4 linked regions of the Homo sapiens genome follow. The protein of the gene in region 2 purifies or fractionates together with the protein of the main gene of each other region. This does not show direct contact. Each region holds a gene or a part of one and is shown on either strand. Other genes may lie near its edges.

Region 1 (6,929 bases), on a different chromosome or scaffold from region 2:
TTTGCTTTAAGTACTAGGGGTAGAAAACTAACCAGAAAGCATGCATCTATAAGGTTAGAGACTGTGTCTACCTTTTTCACTCCTCTATACACAGCACTAAGCAGAATGCCTGGCACACAGAAAGTTCAAAAACACTTGCAAGGTAGCCCTGTCACACAATGGATAGCCTTCTGAACTTCCAGAAAATACTTGCAGAATTAAGTGAATGAATGAATGAGCATATCAGGAAGCCAGCTTAAGAGAGGCTCTACTCTATGGTATAGCCCCTGAGCTGGAGGGCCCAATTTTGTCTTAAGCTCCAAACATTACATGAAACCAGTTTACACCACAACTTGCTATGTACCCATTTACTCTAACATACCACCAATTAGATTATGTACCCCATAATAAGTAGACAAGTTTTTTTAAAAATAATTTTAGCATTCTGATTATGCCCAGGGAACTGTTTCTTAATGTCCAACATTTTGTCTTGCTCAAATCACTTTATCTTTGAGCTGGGCAAAGGCACTGTTGTTATAGATTGTATATAATGAAGAAAATGTTTACTTGCCTATTAGAAACAAGACTGGGAAAGAATCTAAACATACTTCTTTTCTAACAAAAATTACTTTTTGAAATGCTGAAATGCTTTTAGGAAAAAAAAAGAAAGTGCACATGTAACTGTGGGCTATAGGCCTATAAAACACAAGTAATTTACTGAGATTTCCACGAGATTTCCATAAATAGCAATATAGTAAGTGGCAGTGTGATCTACATTTTCAAGTGAACAGGTTGGGTCTCACCTACCGGGCTTCCTCACCTGTTTGAGGGCCAAATGGGGTTTGTGGCGGCCCATTCTGTTGTGATTGCTGTAAAGGACTGCACATAACACATCTGTTTCTGCATCTAAGGTTTGGCTCTTCAGCGACAGTATGACGAGATGGCATTCTTTAATTACAGCTGCAATGCAAAGGTCTGAAGCAGAGACATCTAATAAGATTTAGTATGTATTTCTACAGTAAGTATATTATATTAAAAACACACTAAAAAAAGCATCTTTCCTTATTTGTTTTAAAGGAATCAAAAACTAATGTAATCAGTCTCAACTGTAAGAACGTAAGGATTCTAAGTATAAGAGAAGTTGGAAAATGGTAACAGATGATATAAAGTCCAGGAAATCATTAAGAGAACATCTGTAAAACAAGAAGCTGTATCTTTGCATTGCATTTTATCATGGTTTAATAATCTTTCATATGAATACTTTGCTGTCAGTCATTTGGTGTACACTTACGCCTCATGTGTACACTTAACCCCCACCTTGAAGGTAGGGCACATGTCACAACATGTGTAATAACTCTCTAACTCCCCATGTCGCTATGCCCGAAAGCAAGACAGAATGAATAAATTCACAGTCTTCAAAATCAAGGCTTCTGTGTTTGGATATCACTTTATGAGAGACACAAACATATTCAGAAAAGAAAAACCACCACAGTAACTGGAAATCGTATTATTTGATGAACACCGGGTGCTCATCAGCAGATGCTTCCTAGTCTGAAAATCTGTAGAAGTCCCTAAGATGTAGTTCATGTGTTATTTATGGCTCTAAAGGCAGCACTAGCATTCTAAATGGAAGTAAAGGCTGGTTGCTACCTAACAAGAATTTTCTTACTGTCCCAACAACTACCTGAAGACAGAATGGGCTGCCTCGGGGATGGGTAGTGAGTTGGTGAATTTCCCAGGCCTAATAGGAGTTGTTAAAGAATTTTTGAATAGAGAAAGAGGGAAGATTAATCTGTAAAGTGTGTAGGAAGGATAGATGGGATAATCTGTAAAGTGTGTAGGATGGATATATGGGAAAGGGGATGTGATGATCTAAGTCAAGCTTGTCCAACCCGCCTTATTTTGTTGTTCTGTTCTGTTTTGTTTTAGGCTTTTTGCAGCTTAAAGCCATGGTTTTTAGTTTGTCTCTAGTGAAAAGAGGGATGAGGAAAGGGCTTTACCAGCCCAACCGGAAACAAAGAACCCATGACTGTATTCTCTCCCTTGGGCCCCGGAGCTACGTATTTAATATTCATAACAGCTTCCATTTGAGTGTTCATTTACCATGCCAGGCAGTGTTCCAAATGCTTTCTCTACATTATCAACTCTTTCATCCCCCCAAACAGCCCTATGAGGAAGGTGCTTTTATCTCCATTTGAAAGTGAGATCAGTGAGGCACAGAAAGGTTCAATGACTCCTTCAAGCTCCAGCAAAGGGTAGAGCTAGTATTCAAACCCAAACAACCTGGCTCCTGCGCCAGGCTCCTACCTACTATATGCCCTTCACCCTAACAAATACCACCCATTTAGGTGGCAAAACACCGTCGTTTACAGCGCACTGTCTCCTAAATTACATCATTAGATATTCCCAACGCCCCTGTGAGGAGTAGGAGGACTAACTCCATTTCACAGATAAGCAGATAGAGGTCCGAAAAGATTGCAGTTTGAGTCCCAGTGCTTAGGTGACGTCCACCGCTCCTCGGGTACAGGAAAAAGAAGGAAAGGGGAAATGGACGGAAGGGTAAACAAGACTCCGAAGACCCGGGTGAGCAAGGGTTCCCAGGCAGCACTGTTCCCCGGCACCAGCTGAGTCCACCTCTCTCCGCCCCCTCAGCGCACGGCTGAGCCTTGGTCTTTCATCTCTCCAGCCAAGCCCTGGGTTAGCACAGCTGGTTCAATGAAGGAATGCGAAGCCAGAGGCCCTACAAGCTACACCAGCAAAGTGCTGGGACCGCTCGACCCCTACGTGCCCCGCGCCCCTTCCCAGCGTCCCCCGGGCCGGGAAGTCCCGGTACCACCCCCGCCCACATGCGCCGGCTGGGCCTGGCGGCCTCCCCCGGAAACGTTCCCCCATCCTCGCCCGGCGCCTCACTCACCAAGGGCCGCGCCGGGGTTCTGCACTGTCACTGCGCTGCGGTTCCCCGCCTTAGGGATTCTCACACGGTTCCACGGCTCCAGGCCCGGCGGCACCGCAGCCATCATGCGAGGCGGGGGGACTTACGAAAGGCGGAGCTACGCGAGAGCACGTCCAGCGACCGGAGGTGGGGCGATGGGACCCAGTCCGGGCCGGAAGGGAGCAGGGGGTGGGGCTCGGGCGGGGCCAGGAGCCCGGCGGGAGGCTGCCTTCATCGAGTAAACGCGTGGGACTGGGAAGGACCCAGTCATCTGTATATTGGTTACCAACACGTGGCCGCGTAGAATCATGGGGGAAAAAAGGCCCCATCCCAATACTAACCAACAGAATCTCTGAGAATGCGATGAGGAATCTGCGTTTTGTTTAAACTTAGCGCAGGGGATTCGGAAGCACAACCAAGTTTGGAACTGTTAAATACTTCTAGGCATTTTACAAATATGGAAAATGAGGCCCAGAATTGAGTTGGTGCTTTTACCCCCAACTCTGCCTCAGACATTAGGGGAAAAAGGAAGAAATGAAATGAAGAGGTTTGTGCAAGGTGTGGAATTTGTAGCGAAGAAGCAGTGATTTGCTTTGAGTGGTAAAGGAAGGCTCCTTTATGTCTTGAACCACAGCAAAACCGAGATCACATCAAAGAAACTTGGAAGACACCTGTCAGTCATTCCCACTTTTGTCAGTCTCCAAGACAAGATCATATTCCAAGCTCTAGTGATCCTTACCTCATTAATATCTTTCTAATAATTCATTTATCCTCAGCCATGCTAATGCCCCCTTAAGTTCTTAACACTCCCACAGTAACGTATTAGAAAAACAGTGAGTTTTGGAAACAGACTGCCAAGGTTCTAGTTCTAGCTTTGCTGTTTACTAGCTCGGTGATCTCAGGAAATTTACTTACCTCCTCCTCCAGACCTTAGTATCCCTGTGGGTAAAATGAAGATGATAATAATAGTATCAATCTCACAGACTTGTAAAATGCCAAGGCACTCCTGGCATACAAACAATGAACATTTACCATAGTTAATATTGTTGATGTTATTACTACTATTTCATGCAAGCAGTCTTACTTTATTGAAACACTTTCCATGCTCTTTCTGTGCGCCTTTACACATCTACCTACTCTACCTGGGTCATCCTCGGAAACACAATCTCCTTTCCTCAGCTCTGGGGTCGTCACTTGGGGTAATTCTTCCTAAACACCCCGTCCTCACTCCATAACTTGATACAGAGGCCCCTTTAATGTGTTACCACAGTGCCCTATGTTGGCCTATGTATTAGTTTTCTATTGCTGCTGTAACCAATTACGACAAACCTAATGGCTTGAAATAAGTAGAAGTTATTTTACATTTCTGGAGGTCAGAAGTCCAAAATTAATTTCAATGGACTGAAGTTGGCAGGGCTGGTTCCTTCCGGAATCTCTAGGGAAGAATTCATTTCCTTTCCTTTTCCAGCTTCTAGAGGCTGCCTTCATTCCTTGGCTCATTTCACTATCCTCCACCTTCATTGTCAGCATGACATTTTTCAGTCTCCTCCTCTTCCTCTGTCTCTCTCACCCTCCTGCCTGCCTCCCTCTTAAAAACACCCTTGTGATTACATTGAGCCCATCAAGATAATCAGGATAGTCACTCCATCTCAGAATCTTTAACTTAATCACATCTGTTTTAGAACTCCAAATTCAGGCTCATGTACCCGATGGGCAGCTGATGCCAAATATTGAGATACTGGTGCTTGGAGACAGAGAAATATTTATTCGATTTGACCAAAGTTAGAGGGCAAGAGAGCAAGATCTCTCAGATCCACAGTAACAAAAAAGAAGCAGGGAGTTTTTATGGAGCTAGAGAGTAATGGAGAGGGAGTTTCAAGGAATCCAAGGGAAAAGTCTGTGTTTCTTCCATTTCAGGTAACACCTTGTGCAGCCGTATGTACATGGCAGCTGGTTGCAATGTCCTTCCAGGAATTCATTCCTTCTGCAAACTATTCTTATGACCCTGAAGTTATCTCCTTCTGCTTGACAAAGAAACAGTACATCAGCAGTTTATAATTACATTGTGGGAACAAGGAATACTGGGCAAAAAGCGAGTGGTTAACATGTACAAGCAAGCAAGGGCCTGTTCAAAATTTTCATTATTTCATGCACACACACACACACACACACACACAAAAATGCTGGGGTGCTGAAATCTCAAGCAGCTGAAATCTCAAGGTTATATAGCTACAAAATCCCTTCTCAGTGCAAGGTAACATATTTACAGATTATGGAAATTAGCATGTGAACATCTTTGGGTGGGAGGTGGAGGGATCTTTATTCAGCCTACCACAGCCTCTCTCACAGAATTTACCTCGCTTTATTGTATTTCTTTGTTTACTTTCATGTCTATTTCTCCAATGGCATATGAACCTACTGAAAGCGAGAACTACCATTGACATAGCTAACTGGTCTTTCTATCTCAATGCTTAGTTCAGAGCCTGGCATATAGTAGGGCCTCAGTAGATATTTACTGGCTGTATATGAGGTTGGATGATGCTTGAATAGAGTCTTTTGAAGGATGAATAGGAACTCCCCAGGCAGTTAAAGGAAAAAGGATATTCCTACAGAGAGGTTTTAAGCAGCATGGGTTTGAAGAATCACTAGTCCTGAGTTGGTACTGCTGGGACGTGATTTGTGCTGAGGGGTGGAGCTGGGAATAGTGGTGTCAGTCAGATCATGGGAAGAATTTGGCTTTTTACCTGAAGACCAGTAGTTCAGAAACCTGGCTGATTATCAAAATTGCCTGGATAACTTAAAAATAGAGATTTTCAGGTCCCACTTGAAAATTCTTACTCATTAGTTCTGAGTAGGTCTGTTTTGAAAAGGTCTTTGTGATGGTACTCTAGGTTGACGTGTCCTTGCTATAGGTGATAAAGGAGTCACTCACTGAGTCTTAGGCAGAGCAATTTTTGTCAGCTTGCCTCAGAAGAAGAGCACCCTGGAGAACAGATTTGGGAGAGAAGAGGTTGGAAGTAAGGAGACCAGGCCCATCTGTTCTATTACAAAAGCTAAGGCCAGAAATGATGCAGACCCAAACCTTCAAGCATTTCTACTGGATATAGACAGTATGACTTATTTAGATGTCTAGCATGGGTGGAGAGTGTCCCTTATCTGAAATGCTTGGGACCAAAATTGTTTCAGATTTCCGGTTTTTTTTAGATTTTGGAATACTTGCAAATATACATGAGATATCTTGGGTATGGGACCCAAGTATAAACATGAAATGTATGTATGTTTCATATCTACCTTAAACACATGGCCTGAAGAAACTTTTATGTAATATTTTTAATAATTTTGTGCATGAAACAAAGTTTGTGTACATCTCAATCACCCATGTGGACAGTCTGTGGTTGTTTGGTGTCAACATCATTCCTGACTCTGAATTTATATGCTACTGTTTTTTTGTTTGTTTGTTTGTTTGTTTGTTTGTTTTTTGAGATAGAGTCTCACTCTGTTGCCCAGGCTGGAGTGCAGTGGCACGATCCCGGCTCACTGCAAGCTCCACCTCACAAGATCACACTATTCTCCTGTCTCAGCCTCCCGAGTAGCTGGGACTACAGGTGCCCACCACCATGTCTGGCTAATGTTTTTTTGTATTTTTAGTAGAGACGGGGTTTCACTGTGTTAGCCAGGATAGTCTCGATCTGCTGACCTTGTGATCTGCCCGCCTTGGCCTCCCAAAGTGCTGGGATTACAGGTGTGAGCCACCGCACCCAGCCTATATGCTGCTGTTAAGCAACCATTTTTTTCTCTTATTCACACATATGTGCTTAATAGTAAAAAAAATGATATACCATTAATACAGTGAAAATTAATGTGTTCAGGGTAACTTGTATCATCATGTCAGTACTCAAAAAGTTTGGCATTTTGGAGCACTTCAGATTTTGGATTTTCAGTTTAAAGATGCTCAACCTATTTACATATTTACATGTCTAGAATGATGATATGGTTTGGGTCTGTGTCCCTACCCAAA
Region 2 (7,423 bases):
GGTTTCCCTGTCACCCAATCTGGCCAGTCCCCTCCATCTGGCCCCCGGAGTCAGGTTTCTCTAAGGGCCCAGCCCTGCTCAGAGACAGCCTGCAAGGCTCAAAGGAGGAGCGAAGCCTGGTCCCGCCCTGCCCTCACAGGCCCTCTCTGGGCCAGAGACCCTCGTGGGGCTAGGGACGCGCATTCCTCAGGCTGCCTAAGCTCGCTTATCTGCCCCCCTGCCCATCAGCCGAGTGCTGACAGAGGCCCAGACCCCTTGTTTGGATGCTGATAACCTCCTGCGATGACCCTCTCCCACCTGCAGAGACTGGGAATGGGCTGAGTGTTGGGAGGTCCCCTTCCAGCAAGGCAACTGGGGCCCAGGCCCCAGGTCCTAGCCCAGGGCCATGAGGGTAGAGGATCCCACAGTTCTCCACCCTCCCCCAGGCCCAGGGCCACGCTGGGTGCTTCCACAGTGCCACCTGGCGGTCCCTAGGGAAACATCACCCAGCACAGGAAGAAGCCACACAAGAGCTGCAAAAACTCCACACCACTTTATTTCAACCTTTATCCAAAAATGTAAAAACTATTAAAAATGTGTAGCTCTGAGCTTCAGGCACTAACCTCCAATTCTCACAGGCAGGTGGGAAGGGAGGCCCCGGGCATGGTGAAAATCAGAAAACCACGGCTGTGTGGAGCACAGGCCCTCTCCTAGCACCAAAGACCCAAGTCCCTCCCACCCAACCCCCACCCAAGCTCTCCTCTTCAAGGAAGAAATATTTACAATTGTTGAAACTTGTCAGGGAACAGGGTGCATGGCGGTGCATGGCACATGGAGCTGACCTGAAAAGAGGAAACAAGGAATCAGCATTTAGGCCCTCACCTGCTTCTCCTGCCCCTTCCCAGAGCCTGCTAGGCACTTCTCCCCGCAACTCACCTAGGAGGGCTAGGGCCTGCCCCCCTGCTTTTTGGCAGGAAGGATGGGGCACAGCTCAACTTCTTCCTCATCACTGTCCTCTTCCTCTTCCTCGCTCTCCTCCTCAGAAACATCATTGCTCATCGTAACTGGTGGACACACAAGCAGTAGAAGGATGGGGTGTTAAGACCAGACCGTTTCACACCGCATGCCATTTCTTCACGCCGTGGTGTTAGGCTTACAGGGACCATGACCTCCCAGTGCTTATGGGCTAGGTGGGAAGAACCTCAGACCCTAAACTGGGTCACAAAGAGCCAAAGGAGTCTTCATTATTGGAGCTGGAGAAGTTGGGCCATGTTCCATGGAGGAGGTAGGCTTGAGTAGACGGAAAGGAGAGGGCATGTCATGCACAGGGCACAGCGTGGAGGGCACACAGACCTGTACAGGGCTGCACTGGGAGATGAGGGTGGGATGGGGCAGGAGTGCGGAGTGGGGGAAGCCTGATGGGAGAGTCCACTGGAAGCAAAGGAGAGGGCCCTCCCCTCTTCTCACCAATCTGGTGCCGCCCAGTGATCCGCACAGGGCCAGAGCCCGACTTCAGGCGGAAGGTTACAGGTGGTTGGAGCTGGAAGTCATCCAGACTGAGCTGGGAGGAAGACAAGGATGAAGGCCTGGCCCACTCCTAGCCCACCCCACACTGTAATGAGTGCTAACGTCCTCAATCCCCTCACCACCACCACCACCACCACCAAGGCAGAGCTGGGGAACTCACCATGGGTTGGCAGGACAGCTTGAGGTTGGCCACAGGGACTGCGATCTCCTGATGGTCATGGTTCCGGGCCACAACTTCTACCACATTACACTCGTCTTTGGCTCCCTCGGTGAGGCAGAGCTGGGAACGGTACACAGGGCCTCAGGGTCTCCTCAAGTGAGGGTTGACACCACAACTAAAGGCATCTACCCTAGCACCTGCCCAGCCTCAGAGGTCCCGGTTCACCTGGCCAGGGGAGCCGCCCATGCCGGGGGGTTAGGCTGAGGATGTGTCTCCAAGTAAAGGGGATCCGGAGGTTGGGTAGAGACCTATATTGCCTGCCTGGGCTTATTCATTAAAACCCCACTCCCCTGCCCCTCACCATGGTTAGTGCCAGCACGTGCTCCGCATCATCCTCTTCCTCTACCTTAAAGGTGAAGGAGCGGGTGTGGCCGGAGAGCTCACAGCCTGGTAGAAATAACAGTGAGTATGCCTGAGCGTGTGTACGGGGCTGGGCAGCGGGGGATGTCACCAACCCGCCGTCACGTGTAACCTTGGGCGGACGGGTCATTTACACGTCCACCTCCGTCTCTTCTCTCAGAACACCTGGGACGCTCTGCCGTGGGCCCCGCCCAACACATCTGGGGCAGGGATCTCGCCACCCCCTTTGGCTGTGCGTGCGAGGCCCCCTCTCCTGCGGGAACAGCGAAGCAGCCCTCCGCCCACACCCACGCCTTGAAACCCTCCGCATTCCCGCCTCACATCCCTACCTCTTACCGCCCCAGTACCACCCTCAGCCTCTCCCTTCACTAATACCGAAGAAAAAACTGTCCATAGTGACCGGGGCCGGGACCCGTAGGCCCCCGACACCCCCGGCCCGCGTTCGGCTCTCCTGACTCAAAAACGCTAAGGCAGCTGCAGTACCGGCGGCCATGCTGTAAGAGCCTTCTTCAAACTCCGCCCCCGACACGCACAAAGCCGGGGACCCTCGGCCAGTTCCGGCCCCGCCCATTAAAGGAGACGCACAGTCCTGGAAAAGAAAAGGCGCCGAGACCCCGCAGCCCTACCCGGAGCCCGCAGCTTCTGCTCATATTTTATCAAGACCGAAGAGAAAGGAAGTAACATCACAGAAGAATGGATTTGGGGTTTATGTTAACATCCTTGCTCATTTCCACGACCATGAGGGTGTCCACTTCCCCAAGCTCCTCGCTCTGTGTCGGAAGAGTGTCTCCCACTCTTCCAACCCAGGGTAAGCTTTCGTTAAAGGAGTTATAGATATAAAAATGTAAACCCTTCTTACTCCTCCCAGCAAAGGTGGGGTTCAGGGCAGTGCTTTTCTGCTACAAGCAAAGGAAATGCACTCAGATTGTCTTTGCCTCAAGAGAGCCGAGGAGCCTTAGGAATTTCCATCCCAACACGTCTGTCCTGTCTGTCCTCTCGGCTAAGCCTCTCTTAATTCTTCCTGCTCTAAAGACCCCGCAACTTGCTATGCCTTCACTGAGACTTAGCTGCTGGCACTTGCTAGCAGAGGACTAGTTAGCTCATGTGTGTTGGCTGTTCCTGGCCCACCCACGCTTTTTGAGCTTTTAATTCCAAATCATCCAGGAGTATCTTTGCGCCGTGGATTATTTTGTCAGTTTATGCTACTCGCGCCATCTTTCGCCTTTTAAGAATCAGGCAAACTGTGTGCTTTCTATCCTAATAGATGGCAAAACTCAAACTAGAGGCCCTATTTCACATCCAGGTTATAACTGTGGCAAGAGGGTGGGGTGGCTTGGCTAAAAACTAGTCTACTTTTCTTAGCTCTTGTCTTAATGAAAATCTGGAAGTCTTACTGGTGATGGAGGTAGGGGAGGGCTGCCTTCAAGATCCAATCTCTAACTTGGAACAGCTGTGGAGAGGAGAGAATACCTGCTTGTAGGTGAGGCATGAAAGAGGAGAAAAGGGAGGGGGCAGACAGGAAATAGATTCACACAATACAACACGACAAGCATTCACTTCAAGTTTTATTTTGCCTCTTGCATGGTCTTTTACAGTTCGTTTTCTACAGGAACTGAGCTCTGATCCAAACAATCAATAAAAATGTAATTCCAACCTTAATATTCATAACCAGGAAATAGCATAGCACTTCATGATCCTAGAGTGATGAAAGCAAGACCAGGGCATCTGTTTCACAGTCACCTGTGACCAGACCAGCCAACATGATTACTAAAAGCCAAGATAAAACCAAAAGCAAACTTGCTAAAAAATCCTGAATTCCATGAGGTTAACTCTGAAATCCTCCAAACAAAATGCTAGAATTGTCCACTAGTGTTAAGACGAGAAAACTGAGGAAAACTCAGCTGTCTTACTATCTGGTAAGAGTCTTCCCTTCATCTCAAGCCCTCAAAAATGCAAACTTGGTTCCAGCTTTACAACATACCATATCCTTCTATCGGTTAAAGGTTTCTAACCTAAAAACCTTCTCTCCTTTCTTCTCACCTATTTAGTGCATACTCAAAGGCTTTGGTTGGAAGTCACTAGGTACCACTAGGTACAATGCTTTAGGGCTCTCTCAAAGCCCACAATGGTGGAGTTCTGTGAAAGAAAACTTAAGTTTCTTTCTCTTTACCCCTCTCCCCTCACTCAGCTCAAAGTTAAACAGCTGATGCAAAACTACAGAGAAGCAAGATAACAAAATACTGTTATCAATCTATGGAGAAATCAGCCAGCCATGATGAAAAAATGAGTCCTGCCGACTATCTGCCAGCTTCATGCTCAGAACCCTTAAAAACACAGAATCTAAATTAAAATACATGAAGCTTTCACAATCCGGTTAAAGGAAAAAGGTAACTGTAAATAACTGGTTAAAGTGTGCTCATTCATTCAGAAATTAGATACAAACATGCAAGAATTAAAGACTCTGATTTAATAAAATCAGTAGTAACAGGTCTTGAGATTAAACAACTGACCTGAGGGCAAATGGGACCAATCAGTCCCTGAACCCTACCTGACATGTCAAATCCAACATTTCACATGCTGACCTAATATTGAGGTTAATTTCCAGAAGTAACTGCACTTTTCAACAGATTAAGTCCTACAAAATTAGGCTCTCGTACCCCAAATGGTCATGGCCTACGCCTAGGTGGGAGGCACTTTAAAAATAATAAAACTTCAAAAAGAACAAAAACAACCCCAAACCCAAAGACAAAAGTAAAGAAAATCCACTTTTCACTGGTTTACATTATTCAAAGTGCCATTCTGAACCAACACCCTTTCATTTATAGAGGAAAAAAATTTACAAAAACAGTAAACACAAAGGATAGTCAGGTTACAGCTAGTTTATATACAAAGAAATTTACAAGTTTGTCAATTGTAGGCTTTTGCCACAAACAAATGCACATTTGTCCCTACAAAGTACAACATGCCTGAACCAACAGTCATTACAGGAGACAATTGGCCACGGCTTTACAAAAAGCAGAATAACTGCCCCAAATTGAAATTATTTATTCAGCTTAAACTAATGCCACAACCATCCCACTTGGAATCACTCCACCCTGACACTTCTGAAACCCACTCTTTCTTTCTTTCATCTCTGCCATGTCCCCTAAGACTGAGAGGCATTTCACTCAATAAACCAAGGAAGATGACAGATGTTATCTTGATTACTCTCAGGTGAGAAACGCAACCACACTGGATGCAGAAAATAGTGCTGACTACATTTATTGAAGACTCTCTCCCTGTATAAGCCCATGTAAAAGGTCTCAGCACCTAACACAAGACTCAAAAAGGAAGCCCACATCTCTCTTTCATACAGGATTTGCTGCAATACTATATTCTTCCAACCAGTGAGTAGTCTCAAAGTGTGATGGGTGAGTTTTACATAGTCTTCTTTGTTTCGAATCCAATTGGCTGATTTGTTACCATTCTAGAGGCTGAACTGTATGAAGACCTCAACTACCATTCACAAGGTGCAGTTAAGAGACTTTTGGACAGTTCACAGTGTCAACAAATGTCACAGGCTCCGACCAAGTATAACCACATCCTTTGGAAATCCTTCCATTTTTGCAATTTCAAAACATCCTAACTTGCTGTAAAATTCCAGAATTCTTTTATCATCTGGTCTCACTTCACAGAAAGCTCCCCGGGAGCCTAGAAATAAAACAAATATTCAAAACATAAATAAGTCACTTAATTAGTATAATTATAGATATAAAACTATAATCTTCGAGATGGTTAATATAAACAGGGCTTGTCTGTCTACACCAGCTCCTACATTTCACACAATTAAAAAAATTCATATTCAAAAAATTCAATAATGAGTGGCGTGAGCCACTGCACCCAGCTTCCCCCGCACCCGAGACAGAATCTTGCTCTGTTGGAGTCCAGTGGCAAGATCACGGCTCACTGCAACCTCCGCCTCCCGGCTTCAAGCAAGTCTCCTGCCTCAGCCTCCCGAGTAGCTGGGATTACAGGCGCCTGCCACCACTCTTAGTAGAGACAGGGTTTCACCATGTTGGCCAGGCTGGTCTCGATCTCTTGACCTCATGATCCGCCCACTTCGGCCTCCCAAAGTGCTGCGTGAGCCACCGTGCCCGGCCTTTTTTTTTTTTTTTTTTAAATTAGGTAGAGATGGGGTCTCAGCCATATTGCTCAGGCTGGTCTCAAACTCCTGGACTCAAGTGATCCTCCCACTTCGGCCTCCCGAAGTGCTAGGATTACAAGCATGAGCCACTAAGCCCAACCAGCATTTCTCAATTATTAATACACATGCGATTCTTCACCACTAATTAATTCAGAAACCAAATCATAAAAGGTGGGAAAAGCAGTATAAATTTACAATTCACTTCTTTCCTTTTATATCCAAAAATATATAGTTCTTTCCCTATCTTGCCCAAATACCACCAACTCCACAAATATGTACTCACCATTAGCCTTCAGTGAAGACAGGAGGCAAGCCATCATGCTTTTGGCCACACTTGGGTCAGTTACTTTTTTGTGAATGTCCATCTTTATCAGAGAAGGGAAATTAGCAAGGAAAGTTTCTGGCAGTACTTCCTGTTCTTCATGGAAACTCAACATTATTTTCTGGAAAAATTAGAATCTCTTGACTTTCACAATAGTTACGCATTAGATATCTAACCCAACTACAGAACTTAGCAACAAGAAAGCAATATTTAATAACTCTTCCAGTCACTATGTAAATTATCTCACACAGGATTATCCTATAATTCTAGCTGAAGCATTTTCACTTTCTTTGAGACAGGATCTCCTTCTGTTGGCCAGGCTGGAGAGGGGCAGGCATTCTCCCTCGCGTGCACGCGCTCTCTCTCTCTCTCTCTCTCTTTCCCTATTTATATCGTCAGGGCTGGTCTCGAATTCCTGGGCTCGAGTGATCCTTCTATCTCGGCCTCCTGAAGTGCTAGAATTACAAGTGTGTGCTGCCGTGCCTGGCCACCGTTTTCACTTTTAAAAGCTTGGGCCAGAGATCAAGACCATCCTGGCTGACACAGTGAAACCCTGTCTCTACTAAAAAAAAATACAAAAAATTAGGTCGTGTTGGCGGGCACCTGTAGTCCCAGCTACTCGGGAGGCTGAGGCAAGAGAATGGCGTGAACCCAGGAGGCGGAGCTTGCAGTGAGCTGAGATGGCGCCACTGCACTCCAGCCTGGGCAACAGAGCGAGACTCTGTCTTAAAAAAAAAAAAAAAAAAAAGTTTGGGTTGGGTCTAGTAGCTCACGCCTGTAATCCTAGCACTTTAGGAGGCTGAGGCAGGCAGACTGCCTGAGCTCAGGAGTT
Region 3 (7,023 bases), on a different chromosome or scaffold from region 2:
CCCCTGAGCTGCTCAGCAGGGTCTGTAGGAAGAGGCTGTAGTGGAACTCCACCAGCTCGCAACTTGAGAAAAAGACAACCATCTTCTGGTCTTCCTCAAACTACATCGATACAAAGGGAGGAAAAACCGACATATTTTAAGATTAGGTGACGCCAAAACGAATATTTCTCTAAACTATACAGTCATGCTGACCCCCATTTGGAAATAAAGGTGACTATCTTTGAATTATTTAAAAAAACAAAAACAAAAACAGTGATACTCCACTCTACAAAGAATGCAGGAGAGGAAAACGACACAGCTATCATTTCAAACAGGTTTCCCTTATCTGACAAAAATAAACACACCTGGGAGCACAGCTGTGTGGGAGCTCCGTTCCCTTTATTCGCCCAGGGCTTGCCACATGCAACACTACCTGGCTGAGACCCTACATATGCAGAAAACCTTCACCCTTAAGCCCTTCCACTTACTATTTTCTCACATCTCAGAGTCAGCGCAGAAATCTAGTAAATAAATACACAAATGCCAAGACTCTTGGAGAAACATGAGCACAAGCCCCTACGTCTGCCTCACATCCAGCTGTTCCCGCCACCTGTGATGTTCCTAATATCAGTCCCAGGAAAGGTATCGAGAACATTTCAAGCTGAACATCATGGCTATCATTGACCTCTGAGTTTTTACCATAATCCTAAAACCTGACTGAAAGGATGTATATCAAAGTCTGCATCCGGAATGCAGACATAAGTTGGAAAACCTCTGATTTTTGGTGTCTCAACTCATTGCTCCCAATGGCTTAACACAAGAAAGCAGGCCTTTCTTCCCTGAATCAAGTCGGCTCTAGCCCACAGTCCCACCTTGCATTTCTGAAGGATGAAGGCCGCTAGGCAGACAAGCCTCAGTTTGCTGGGAACCACAGTCACATGCTGCTTGAGACTCTCTGGTATTGCAAAGCTGTCCAGCTTGTCGCCAGCTGGTGGAGGACAGACCTCCTGGACCGCTTTGTCCTTTGGGTTCAACTGGTCATGGCTCTTGTCCAGGACAGAAATACTGACTGGATCATGCAAACTGATATCAGCTAGCCGCGTTACACCTTGGATAAAAGTAAGAAGGGCAAAGCAGACAACAAACACACCATGAAACTGGTCACAAAAGCGTACCCCCATACAGCACCCACCCATGTATGTTAGGACTACGTATGTTACCCCATGGGTATCACCAAGTCCCAGCACTGATCCGCCCTAGTGCCAACGTGTGTGTTGCAGGGAGATCTACCAACGTATCTTTCCATAGCCATTCTATAAACACTCACCTATGGAACAGCGTCCAAAAGATAGCAACAGATACTGCGCCCACCCCCACCTCCCAAAAGGGTTCTTTGGTCAAGTAAGTTATGGCAAATCTTGGATTTCAAAGGTTTCACAAAAGCGTTTTTGCTATAAGCAGCCCTCTCAGGGCCTTTATTGTGTTAATGTGCCCTGAGAATATCCAAGGGAGGGATGTGGGGCATTTCTCAAACTTTCTTGACCACAGAATCCCTTCTTCGTGAATCATCCCTCAAAAATTAGAACATAGGGAACTGTGAGGGACCACATGCATGGCATCTGGTACATGCACATCATAATGTGGCCTAGTAAATCAAGGAAACCAGACAGAAAAACGTGAAAGCTGCACTGCTGGTCAATGACTCACTGTGTGGGGTGGATCTGGTAGAGTGATACAACTTTTCCAAGCCTTCGTGTTCCCAGTGATAAAAAAGAGAGCTAAGAATTTCCATCTCACATGGATGGAAGACAGAGAAGCGCTTCATTGATATATTTTTTAAGTTTAATAGCTCTATAGGAGGAAGAGTGATTACATTAAAAATGCACTCAGATAAGAGGTCATCATCTTCAGTGCAAGGGCCCTGCTCTCCATGGGTTGCAAGTGCACAAAAACCTCATGAAACCACCAAGCCAATAGCAGCCAGTCTTTTCTCGTCCTCATCCCTGCCCTTTCTCCCTTTCCCCATGCCCTGGGGAACATATCTGTCTTGGATGACTTGCAGAGGGAAGTTGGGAGTGTAGAACATAGAGTTTGAAAAGGCAGTCTTCTAAGGACAGCTCTCTCCCTGCCCCCACCTCCCTGAGGTTGAGAATCACTGCAGCAAACAACCCAGGTTAAATCTAGGTCCTTCCTCTTCATTAAGAACAAAGAAGGACCCATCACTTCTTTTCAACTCACCTTCTGTGAGTGTCGCTGATAGCAAGACATTCTGTCGTTTTTGGCATTCAGCATTTACAGCATTAAGTATCACTGTGATGTCCTTTTCAAAACCCAAATCCAAGATTCTGTGATTGTAAAAAAAAAAAGAAATTTTCAACTATATGAAGAGCAGATGTGGTCTAAGGGGCTACAGAAGTTGCAACAAGGAGAGGAGAAACAGCCCTTCTCTTCTACCTGTTATCATCCTGGGACGAGGCTCACCTGTCTGCTTCATCAAACACCAACCACCGCAGCCGACTAAAATGAATGTTCTTTGTGGATTTTATATGATCCACCAGGCGTCCAGGAGTTGAGATAAGGATATTTATTCCTTTGCGGAGTCTGTTTAAAATTATATATCATAAAAGAAAGTAAATCAAACAGGGCCACGCCAGTAGAAAACACAGGAAAAAGGCAAAATAGACAGACTCATTTCATGTACAGTGCAAACGTGCCATAGCCTGAAATCATGACAAAACATAAAAACTGGGTAGAAAGCTGTACTTGAGTCTTTCCCTGTACTGTGAAATGCAATTGTTAAGATCTGAAATTACATTAAAATCATAAAACTTTAACTTTGAAAGGGATCATAACTACATAATCCAATGCTCTTTATCTGACTCATAAATCCTCTCTAGAACCTTCCAAAGAGATTGTAGTCTAGCCTGTTCTCGAAGGTTTCTGTGCCAGAGAATCTAGTATCTGAGCAAGTGATTCCATGCCAATGTGCTCCAATTGCTAGGACACTTTTTTCTTATGCTAAGCCCTTTATGTAACTTCCATTCAACGGGGCTCAGCTTTGTCCCATGGGTTATATACAATAAATCTAATTTCTCATTCCCCAGACAACCATTTTCCTGTCAGTCCACCGTAATAAAAGCTTCCAATTTTTAGCACATTTTTTTTTTCTTTGTAGAGACGGGGGTCTCACTATGTTGCCTAGGCTGGTCTCAAACTCCTGGTCTTAAGTCATCCTCCTGCCTTGGCCTCCCTAAGTGCTAGGATTACAGGCATGAGCCACTGCACCCAGCCTAGCTGGATATATTTTCAAGCTTCCCTTGCAGTTAAGTATAGTCATGTTTGTTTTAGCAATGGGATAAAAGGTAAAGGGAACACGCCAATCACACAAGCACCTTCAGAGGGAGCAGGTATGAGCATCTCTGTACCCGCTGGCAAGAAATTAGATGCAATGGTTGGAGTGCCTGCAACTATCTAAGACTATGAGGTAATCTTAAAAATGGAATCCTCCCATAGTGGCACAAAAAGACAGAAAGAGCTTGGTCCCCGACACTGGAGCACCAGGCCAGCCTTGGACTGGCTCTGTCAGATTTCTTAAATGTGAAAGAAAAATAAAACTTGTATATTGTTTGTGCCACTGTTATTTGTTATTATTGTTGTTATTCACAGCTGAGTCTAATCCTAACCAATGCTTTGAGGTTTCAGGTTTCATATTTACTCCTCAGTTATAGACTACATGCATCATTATTGAGTACTGATTATTAAGCTATAATACAATAAAAATGTTTTCAAAAGAATGAAGACAATTTGAGATTTACTTGTTGCAACGATTTTCAACTGACACCCATTACAAATCCTAATAAAGGAACAAACATATTCGGTTGTAAAAAGCAAGTTACAAAGCATTATATAAGTGAATGATCTTGTTTTTGTAAAAGCAAACAACAAAACCCCAAACTCTTAATGTCCACAAAAATGAGTGGCATGCAGGTGGATGTATACTAAACCAGGGATGCTATAGAGCATTGGGTAGGTGGGAGTTAAGAAGTTGACAGCACTGTTACTAGCAACATCAGAAGGAAACCTGTTTGTAGGTTTAATATTTTAAAAAACAGCACCGTCTAGAGGTGACCGCTCCCCACTGACTCAATCTGTCCCTGTGCACCGGGACTAGGAAGCAGAGCCTGAGACAAAGCTCTCAGCAGGTTTAGAAGGACCCAGCCTTACTGAATAGGAAGGCAGGACACATTCAAGAAGGAAACAACAACCAACAAACCTCTTCCTACCTGGCCTTTTCTGATTTTCTCTTCTCTCCTCCCATTAACACTCCAGGCACAATCCAGGTGAAAGGCTACAGAAAGACAGCAGACCACAGTCAGTGCAAAGCCCCCTTTACTAACATCAGACATTGATTCCAAATTCCCTTTCCTTAAACAAGGCATGGGAGAAAACTGGTGCTTCTCATTGTATAAGGTGTTATTGTGCAGACACAATTCCTAGGCATTGCTACACCCATGTTCACTATCAGCAGTAACTTGAATTATAGGTATATAACTAGCTTCTACCACAGTGAGAGAGAAATGTGAGCTTCTTAAATCATTCAAGTAGCTTGCCTTTCTTTTCCCACAGAGCCTGAACTGAAAACACATGTCAGTAAGTCTACTGCCATTTTTGGGGTTAAGATAAAAACCCAAGCAACACCCTTCCCTACTCTCCACCCCTAATAAAAGAAAGGATGGATCAATTCATGATCCAATTTGGTGAGCTGGCTGGCTTTGATTCTGAAGCCTTCACTCTCCTTTCTTAAACAAATCCTACTTGCAGCTAAGTTGCTTTCTACTGGATCACCATCAGGCTGTACCTGTGAATTTCTGTATGTGGCTTGCTAGTGACTATGATGAACAAATTGCAGGACTTTATGCACCAGGAGTCACTGATAATTCAGCTAAGCTAGAAATTGGTAGGTTTAGATCAGTAAAAACCTATAAACTGCCTAGAGAGAGCAGAGATATCCAGGCAAAAGGAAATAATTCTTATCTCTTTGAAAATAAAGAATAGACTGTAGTATATTAAATCCTTCCTCAAAGTCAGCAAGCAAGATGAAATGGAACTCATGGTTTGCCTTACCTTAAGCAGTTTCTGGACAGTGTCAAAGCTTTGTAGAGCTAGCTGTAAAAATTTTAAAAGTTATAGATGATGAACAGGATCCCCCTTTTTTTTTTTTTAAAGACAATTTAATGTGATTAGGATCCAAACTTGGACCTCAAGTTAAGATTTAAGAAGAAAAAAAATCCTATACACAGAATCTAATATACCTTGTTCTTAGACTGGTTCTGCAACCTGTCAGTTTGGGCAAAGAGGGTAAAGACAACACTTCTATTTCTTGGACATACACAAAAATAGTGTTTTGTGCTCCCTCTGCTGGCTCAAATTCCCAGAGTGCCACACAGAGAAGTTCAAGTCTGTGGTGCACAAAAACGTAAGAGAATGAAACAAAGTAACCTGAATTTGACTCTCCTTAGAAAGAGAAAGAATATAATATGTACGCAGAGTAAACCACAATAGTGACGCAACAGGGTAGCCTCTGGGAACTTCGCTCTCAAGGAGCGATGACTGTATTCTACAACTGTGCCAGGATATCTGAAGCCTGGGAGATGGTCGCTCCTCAAGTTTATATCAATAAAACAAAAGCAAACCAACAGCTCCATTTGAGAACAAAGCAAGTGAAAATTAAAGTAGGCTACAACCATTAACAACCTTCAAAAATGCCTCATACAGAATCCCGTTCTTAAAGAACGTATATACAGTTTCCACATATTTAGTATTCATGAAGCATCCTCGAGAAGTAGCAAGTTTGCTGCTGTAAAAATTTTAATAGCTTCTGTGCCTGCTCCTTCATTGGACTGAGCTGAGATAGGGGACTGCAGGCTATATGAAAAGCTGACTTCAAATCATCTCTGTGATCAATTCTCTGTAAGGAAGTGATTAGCATTTGATATAGAAACCACATACCCTAATCTGAAGTTGCCTCTGTAGGCAAATAAAATAGATCAGATAGAAGAGATTTCCACCAAGAAAGAAAAAAATATTGAAAAGTTTAACTTTTAGGAACAAGTAACATTTTTGGTAGCAGTAGCTTCTTAAAAAAAATAAAGGTTCATTTTCAGAGCCAACTGCTTTTGGTTTTGAATAAAGTTGCTAAAAAATTGCATTTCTGTAGGTTTTTTTTTAGCAACTTAATTCAAAACCCAATTAAACAGACATTTAATAGTATCATTAGTTTCTAGACAATAGGAAAATACTTTTCCATACTTATGATTCTCAGAGACTACTTGAATTTTTCTCCTTGACAAGAACCAGAAGGATGGTTTCCAGGCAAATGGAACTGGTGTGCAGTGGCTTGTGCAGTAGGGAGAAACATGGTAAAACCACTTTTAAATTCAACGGGACATTAGTGAAAGCATGTGCTTAAAACTTGTCCCAAAAGGGAGCCTGCTTACCTCTCTCGTTGGCACGAGCACCAGGGCATAGGGGCCATCACTGCGCTGTTGACACACAGAAAAAAAATGCCATGAGCAGGATAAACAAAGGCAGACTCCAAACGGACAGGACACAGGGGTGGCCGGTTGTAGAACATCAGAAGCACTCTTAATGAAGAAAGGGACAAAATAAGGTTGCCCACTGATGTGGTCTGGCTGTGCCCCCACCCAAATTTCGACTTGCATTGTATCTCCCAGAATTCCCACATGTTGTAGGAGGAAGGGCAGGGGGGCAGGAGTGAGGTGGTAATTGAATCAGGGGGGCCGGTTATTCTCGTGATAATGAATAAGTCTCACGAGATCTGATGGGTTTATCAGGGGTTTCTGCTTTTGCGTCTTCCTCATTCTCTCTTGCTGCTGCCATGTAAGAAATGTCTTTCGTCCTCTGCCATGATTATGAGACCTCCCCCAGCCATGTGGAACTGTAAGTCAAATTAAACCTCTTTGTCTTCCCAGTCTCGGGTATGTTTTTATCAGCAGTGTAAAAATGGACTAACACACCCACTAA
Region 4 (7,023 bases), on a different chromosome or scaffold from region 2:
CTAGGAAACCTGACTAATCTGTTCCTGCACCTCTTTCCAGAGTGGTCTTCAGGACATAATCCTCAGACCTGCTAAAAGTAGGAGAAGCTGCAGCAGCCTTCAAGTCAGCACCAGGGCTGCAGGAGCAGGTCCCCTCACCAGCATTTCAACCAAGTTAGTTAGGGCTGGGATACTGGAAACACGCACTAAGCCATTTCCATTGGGATGGGTGAAGCAAGTGGCAGAGCTGGCTTTGCCATGCTCTCCAGTGACATTCCAGGGGAAACACTCTTTAGGAAGTAACACGTCTGGCACCAGAGTTGACTTTTAATTTGTCCTAAAGCCGCTGAAGCAAAAACCATGATAAAACATTCTGCTTTCTTTTCTTTTACAACCCCACGAACGCAAAAAAAAAAAAAACAAAAACAAAACAAAAAAAAGAAACAACAACAAAACCCAAACTATTTGTAGGAAAAAATGGTTTTGTACATGGGATGAAACAATATAAATTCAAAACTTACAGATAAGGGTTAGCTCTATCACTCAACTCTTTAAAAAGTTTATATGAATATCCAGTCAAAACCAACACGGTATTGCCCTTGAAATGTTAACTAGACGGATTTCCAAGGAGACCACAGGACTGTATACTGTCTTGGAATGTCCTCAGAAGGCTCTGTCATTGATCAGGTAACAGTAAAAACCCCAGAGTCCTTTCTTTCAAATGGAAAAGGGAAAGCAGAGGGACAGAAGCTATTCAAACTTCGTCTTCTTTCCTTGTGGCTTGTGGTCACCTCCTCCTCCTCTGCCTCCTCGGAAGCCTCCTCGCCCTACAGGAGGAAGGCAAGACACTGTTAAAAGAATGGGTACAAAGCTCCTCCTCCCCAGTGATTAGGAACCGTGACAGGGCACAGGGTCTGAAGAGCACATGCTATGTGGTGTCATTATCTCTGCGTGCCTTACCTCCAAAGCCTCCCCGGCCTCTGCCACCAAATCCTCCTCGGCCTCCTCTACCACCACCTCGTCCTCCAAAGCCGCCTCTGCCTCCACCACGACCCCCGAAGCCACCTTCACCCTTAGGTTTGGCCCAGTCCAAGGTAACTTTATTTCCATCAATTTCACCGTCTTCCATGGCCTCCTTGGCAGCTTTGGCATCCTCCTCACTGTTGAAGTCTACAAAACCAAACCTAGAACACCAAATGAAATTGCCCATTATAAAAAGCACCTACTACACATGTCCCAAGTTAACTGTACATGCTGGGGAGCCATCCCACAGAAAGTAGCCTTGTTTATTTGGGAAAAGATACCAGTGACAGAGTAGCTCTCTATGGAAAACTAACTGGTGTGACAGCTTGAACCCCAGAATGTCTCACAATACAGCTAAATATACCTCTGTAAAGACAGAAGGTAAAATAATGCTAGTTCTGTGAATTCTCTCTTCTTCTCGTGCGAATCCATAAACTGCCACTGATAGACAGAAAGGAGCTCAATGAGAAGACACATTAGACTCAAGGTCTGCACAGAACAAAAACCCCTTCAAGTGGAAGCAGCACTCACGCTTCCTTCCCTTACCCTTTGGAGGACCCAGTTTCCCGGTCAGTAACTATCCTTGCCCGAACGGAGCCGTCAAATGACTCCTTTAATGTCTCTTCAGTGGTATCCTCAGACAGGCCTTTGACAAACAGAGTTTTGGATGGCTCTGGGAAGGAAAAAAAAATGTGACTTTATGTGAAGTCACAGTTCGTAACACTGAATTTGCACAATGCCTAGTATGACTACTAGCCAAGAATACTTGTTATAGTGAAAAAGCAGTTAAAAGCAACTAAGCCAACTAGTCCTTAATTAAAGTAAAGGCTATTCTGGGTTTACATTTTTTAATTGCCATTGCATAGTTGATATCCTGCCCCAGATCTTCTATGGAAAGTGGGAGAAGCAACCCAAGCAGGTGGGGCCCAGTGGATGGGGCAGGAAATCATGGGCAAACTTGCTACTCTGAGTTGACACAGCTGGATCAGAACTTGACTATCTAGAGGAATTTTCTTGAGATTTCATCAATTATTTCTCAGGTAATCAGTCATCATATCCAGTTATTGTTCACTCAGTAGCAACAGGAAACACAGAATTTGTGCAAAAAATAAACAAAGCACCGAGAGTGCTACCCCCAACCACAGCACCCTAACCAGGTGAACTTACGGCTTCTGGCATTAGGTGATCCCCTGGGTCCTTGCAACTCCAGCCTGATTGCTCTGCCCTCAATTTCCCTTTTATTACAGGAATTTAAAGCTTCTTTAGCGTCTTCGAATGAAGCAAACTCTATAAATGCATACCTGAGGATGAACAGTTAATGCTTAGAGTAAGTTACCAGGCACATGCTCCTTCACTGTCACATGATGCTGCCAAGCCCCTTCTCTCAAGTTGGTACCTAAATGATGATCTTTATTTTACACTCATTTACGTAGCTAAAATTATTTGGCTTTTCTGACAGGATCACATGACCTTACGTTCCTTTAGACCTCTAAGACATATATAGCCTATAACTGATGATACAAAGGTATTATCTTACCCTTTAGATTTGCCATTTTGGTTCTGGGGTACTTTGATAAAAGTTGCTTTCTCAAATACTTCCTGAAGAGTTTCTTCTGTTGCACTGTAGGAGAGGTTGCTTAAAACCAGAGTTTTTGATTCACCTGCAAATAGAGATGCCACATTCCTAAGACTCTGAAACAGTGGTTCCCAGCTTCGGTCACAACAGTAATATCTTATTCCTAAGAATTTCAGTGCTTGAGTTAATATACAAATACTCATGACGTAAGCTAAATCCATTTCTGTTACTCAACATATTAAGTACCTAGTACGTGTTGCAATGTCCTGCTGGTTGTTCTTACATAGGCTGATGACTGGTCTGTTTTCCTAGAATCATCTGAGTTCAAAACGCACATGGTCAAGTCATTTAAAGTATAAAACATGCCTACAAAGGAAGCTTGATTTGCCTACTGTATTCCAATGCAAAATGATTTTAGAGCTCTCATTCAAGATTGGAAATTACTATTCCAAATAAGAGTATGACTTGGGGTATCATGTCCTTGATCTTCACCTACATTTGAGTAACTTTGATTAAAAAGTATTTATAAACTTATGAAATACAAAGACACAAAGGAGTTCCCTCCACCAATTCTGAAACCTTGTAACAAGCCTAATTTCTTACCACTCCAAGTGCTATTCTTTCCACCTCTATAGTCTTGATTTTGACCTTTCTCTCCAGTATAGTACAGGGAAATAGATCGCCCATCGATCTCTGTTCCCTGCTTTTCTTCAAAGGTTTTCTCTGCATCAGCTTCTGTCTTAAATTCAATATAAGCAATCCTGCAATGGAGGGAGAAGAACTCATGGTTTTTAAAACCATATTAACACAAATGCTTTTACCTCAGCAACACAGAACTTGCTTCAGATCTGAGTACAATAAATGCCCTTAGTTTTATGCCACTTTTCAATCAAAACTCGAGCTTCCCTCTTACTTCCCACTAGTTTTACAAATACTTGGAATTTTTTCATAGTAACCTCACCTCACTGAAAGAACTGCTACTACTTACAAAGTATTTATTGTAAGATAGGCACATTTCTTGCTTCTTTGTAAGTATTAGCTTGTCTTTTAAAATCACCCTATGAGTACATTATCCCCATGGTACAGATGGGTTACTGAGGCACAAACTTACAGGTTAAACTGTCCAAGATTACACGCCTAAGGAAATCAAACCAATATTTCTTTTATAAAGCAGGAAAGTGCATTAATGTTAATAAAACCCTTACATTTCAATAGACAGAACATACCCTTTACTTTTCCCATCCTTGCTGACTAATCTGATCTCCGCAGCATCTTCAAACACTTCTTTCAATTCATCCTGAGTGACTTTGTAAGGGAGATTTTTAGCCAAAAGTGTTCTCGCATCTCGCTCTAGATTAAAAAAACAAAAATGAGCTCTGTGGCCTGAAAAACCAAAGGTGGGGGGCAACAACAAAAAGAGGGGAAAAACACACATAGCTCTATTCAACAAATAATTTGAGATCCTATAATGTACAAGGCTCGGTGCTAAATATGGAGATATAGCAGTGTCAACACACAAGTGGTCCCTCCATGTTGTCACAGCTGATGTCAAACTCTCTGTTAGGTACACTGGAGTTCAACCTAGAGTAGACGCGCATAACAAAAAAAGTGAATGTACCAATTCAAAACATTACAACTGTATATAGGGAGTAATTAGGGACCTAATCTAGTTTCAGTGAAGAAAGATCCCTTTACGTTAATTTAGGTGCATCTAATAATTCTTGTTCTGTATAAAAGTGCTCTTGCTTGCCTAACTCAGGAATTTACACTATAACACTGACAAGCAGTGCCAAGTACTCTTGTAAACACTGTAGCTCATTTAATTCCCACATTAAGAGGAAACCAAAGGAAAAAAATGATTTAAAAAAATAAGAGGAAACCAAGGGAAATGGGTTACAAAGCATTTTCCCTAGCAGTCTAGCTCCTGAGTTCATTGCATAATCTCATAAAGCCTTACATACCTTTCTTACTGTCTTTTCCTTTTGGTTTCTCTAGTTTAATTTCATTGCCAAAGACTTTCAAACCAGTGAGTTCCAACGCTTTCTCCAGGTCTTCAGCAGATTCAAAATCCACATAACCAAATTTCCTTCAAGGTGGAGAGGAGGGCAAAATTACAACAGGTGAAAACACAAATCAAAATCCACAATATGTATTCTAGACAAATGTGATGGTGCAAACAAAGATCACATTTTAAAAAGCACCCCTAGTATTAGCAAAACAAAGTCAAGGCTCTGCAAACTGCAGCTACAGAACAAGGTCTCAGCATGAAGATATGACATGCACATTCACGTTTGAGGTCTTCATCATGGAGCTAAATTGCTTATAAGAATTCACAGTAGCAGCTGACAAAAGAACACCTATAAGCACTAATACAGGAGAATCCTGTCTGGATAAAAGTATTCACTATGATGACTAGACAGGTCTAATAGTTTCAGGTACTTCCAAGAAAATAAACATTATTTTAAATTGAGACGGTGTCTCAATCTGTTGCCCAGGCTGGAGTACAGTGGCGCGAACTTGGCTCACTGCAACCTCTGCCTCCCAGGTTCAAGCGATTCTCCCACCTAACACCAAATTATTAAAACTTACTGGCAGGGTGGCTCACGCCTGTAATCCCAGCACTTCGAGAGGCCGAGGTGGGTGGATCACTTGAGGTCAGGAGTTCAAAACCAGCCTGACCAACATGGTGAAATGCCATCTCAACTAAAAATACAAAAATTAGCCAGGCATGGTGAAGTGCACCCGTAATCCCAGCTACTTGGGAGGCTTAGGCAGGAGAATCGCTTGAACCCGGGAGGCAGAGGTTGCAGTGAGCCAAGATTGCGCCACTGTACTCCAGCCTGAGCAAAAGCCAGCGTCCGTCTCAATACATAACAAAAACAACAAAAAAACTTACTAAAAATTATTCTGTGCTATACCAAGTTACGACTGATTATGGAAATTGCAACTTAGGGGATCTACAGTTTAATTCTAACTTAGTTCACTAATGCTAATCCTTGAAGATGTTTACAGTATTCATGTTTAACAGTAGCAGGCTAAAGTAACTGTGCTAACAGGGGAAGGAAAAGCATTAACAGACCCACGTGTATGTAACGTGCAGTGAAGCACTTACCTAGTCATACCAATTCTGACATCCACAACAGCAAGATCATTTTTAGCAAAAACATCGCTGATACCAGTTTTTAATTCAGGAGCAGATTTGTTAAAGTTTAGGTTTCCAACAAAGAGATTGAAAGCCGTAGTCGGTTCTGTGCCTGCACAAAAAAAGCTCAACTCAGTCTACTTGTAGTGTGGTAAAAAGTTAGTTTCCAAAGCAAAATTTCTATACACAGCACATCAGCACACTACAATGTAACATCAGGTTTCAGTATTAAGTCCCTTTGTTATTCATCATTTGTGCTGTTTATCTCCCCCATATCCCCTAATTCTGCAAGTTACCTTCCACTTTCTGTTTCTTGGCTTCAGGAGCTGCTTTCTGTTTGGCCATTTCCTTCTTTCGTTTTCCAGGTGCTTCTTTGACAGGCTCTGGACAAGATGTCAAACAATGTATCACACATCAGTAGCCACAAACACTTAAGTGCCTCCTTTAAACATAACTCATGTCGTATGTCAGAATCTAATTTAAGTACCTTCCTCCTCCTCTTCTTCCTCCTCCTCATCATCTTCATCATCATCATCTTCATCATCTTCGTCGTCGTCGTCATCCTCGTCCTCATCATCCTCTTCTTCATCTTCATCCTCAGCCACGTTCTTGGCTTTCACAGGAACAACTTTTGCAGCTTTCTTTCCTTTGGCTGGTGTAGTCTCCATAGCTTCTTCTTCAGAGTCTGAAAGAGAAGTCACCTAAAAATTGCAGCAATCTCCCAAAACCAACATCGGTTTTCAAATCTAATGTAAAGAAAATGCAATCCTGTCACCATGTTTAGTTAACAGTCATGGCAAGAATAGATCACTTGGGGCCGGGCGCAGTGGCTCACGCCTGTAATCCTAGCACTTTGGGAGACCAAGGTGGGTGGATCACCTGAGGTCAAAAGTTCGAGACCAGCCTGGCCAACATGGTGAAATGTCGTCTCTACTAAAAATACAAAAATTAGTAGGGTGTGGTGGTGGGCACCTGTAATCCCAGCTACTCGGGAGGCTGAGGCAGAACTGCTTGAACCCAGGAGATGGAGGCTGCAGTGAGCCGAGATAGCGCGCCATTGCACTCCAGCCTGGGAAACAGCAAAAGCTCCATCTCAAAAAAATTTAAAAAAAAAAAAAATCACTTAGAAACAAAATCCTACATTATAAAAAACACTAATAGAATGTGCTATTGAAATTTTCTCAAGAGGCACAAAAATCATTCATGGGTAATTAAGTCTAGCACACCACAACAACCCAGAGAATTCCCACAAGGATTCTAATCTCATCTCCAGGTTGTCGTGGAAGGAATATGTTGATCCCAG

What was found.
Region 1: the proteins of NPM3 (region 2) and RMP64 purify together in Homo sapiens (affinity purification with mass spectrometry; 4 studies listed by BioGRID and IntAct, with this or other methods). This does not show direct contact.
Region 3: the proteins of NPM3 (region 2) and DDX31 purify together in Homo sapiens (co-immunoprecipitation; 2 studies listed by BioGRID and IntAct, with this or other methods). This does not show direct contact.
Region 4: the proteins of NPM3 (region 2) and NCL fractionate together in Homo sapiens (co-fractionation; 4 studies listed by BioGRID and IntAct, with this or other methods). This does not show direct contact.

The regions. Positions count from the first base shown.
Region 1 is NC_000003.12:113,016,649-113,023,577, forward strand, and holds the start of RMP64 (nucleolus and neural progenitor protein), read right to left. Parts: upstream 3,024-6,929; 5' UTR 3,000-3,023; coding exon 2,894-2,999; exon of another isoform or gene 2,870-2,893; intron 2,762-2,869; exon of another isoform or gene 2,418-2,761; intron 955-2,417; coding exon 800-954; intron 1-799. UniProt on the Homo sapiens protein: May play a role in cortex development as part of the Notch signaling pathway. Downstream of Notch may repress the expression of proneural genes and inhibit neuronal differentiation thereby maintaining neural progenitors.
Region 2 is NC_000010.11:101,780,812-101,788,234, forward strand, and holds NPM3 (nucleoplasmin-3), read right to left. Parts: upstream 2,636-7,423; 5' UTR 2,580-2,635; coding exon 2,462-2,579; intron 2,114-2,461; coding exon 2,028-2,113; intron 1,787-2,027; coding exon 1,667-1,786; intron 1,541-1,666; coding exon 1,447-1,540; intron 1,044-1,446; coding exon 925-1,043; 3' UTR 916-924; intron 822-915; 3' UTR 514-821; downstream 1-513. Other genes in the region: OGA (protein O-GlcNAcase), read right to left, coding at 5,640-5,776, 6,553-6,712. UniProt on the Homo sapiens protein: Plays a role in the regulation of diverse cellular processes such as ribosome biogenesis, chromatin remodeling or protein chaperoning. Modulates the histone chaperone function and the RNA-binding activity of nucleolar phosphoprotein B23/NPM.
Region 3 is NC_000009.12:132,645,972-132,652,994, forward strand, and holds part of DDX31 (ATP-dependent DNA helicase DDX31), read right to left. Parts: intron 6,522-7,023; coding exon 6,477-6,521; intron 5,146-6,476; coding exon 5,104-5,145; intron 4,328-5,103; coding exon 4,263-4,327; intron 2,581-4,262; coding exon 2,461-2,580; intron 2,325-2,460; coding exon 2,218-2,324; intron 1,088-2,217; coding exon 852-1,087; intron 101-851; coding exon 1-100. UniProt on the Homo sapiens protein: May have DNA helicase activity and RNA helicase activity. Probably have ssDNA and RNA dependent ATPase activity. Plays a role in ribosome biogenesis and TP53/p53 regulation through its interaction with NPM1.
Region 4 is NC_000002.12:231,454,462-231,461,484, forward strand, and holds part of NCL (nucleolin), read right to left. Parts: intron 6,406-7,023; coding exon 6,208-6,405; intron 6,104-6,207; coding exon 6,017-6,103; intron 5,982-6,016; exon of another isoform or gene 5,907-5,981; intron 5,833-5,906; coding exon 5,691-5,832; intron 4,665-5,690; coding exon 4,540-4,664; intron 3,929-4,539; coding exon 3,805-3,928; intron 3,340-3,804; coding exon 3,182-3,339; intron 2,664-3,181; coding exon 2,540-2,663; intron 2,304-2,539; coding exon 2,170-2,303; intron 2,063-2,169; exon of another isoform or gene 1,983-2,062; intron 1,676-1,982; coding exon 1,549-1,675; intron 1,476-1,548; exon of another isoform or gene 1,339-1,475; intron 1,164-1,338; coding exon 940-1,163; intron 807-939; coding exon 730-806; 3' UTR 1-729. UniProt on the Homo sapiens protein: Nucleolin is the major nucleolar protein of growing eukaryotic cells. It is found associated with intranucleolar chromatin and pre-ribosomal particles. It induces chromatin decondensation by binding to histone H1.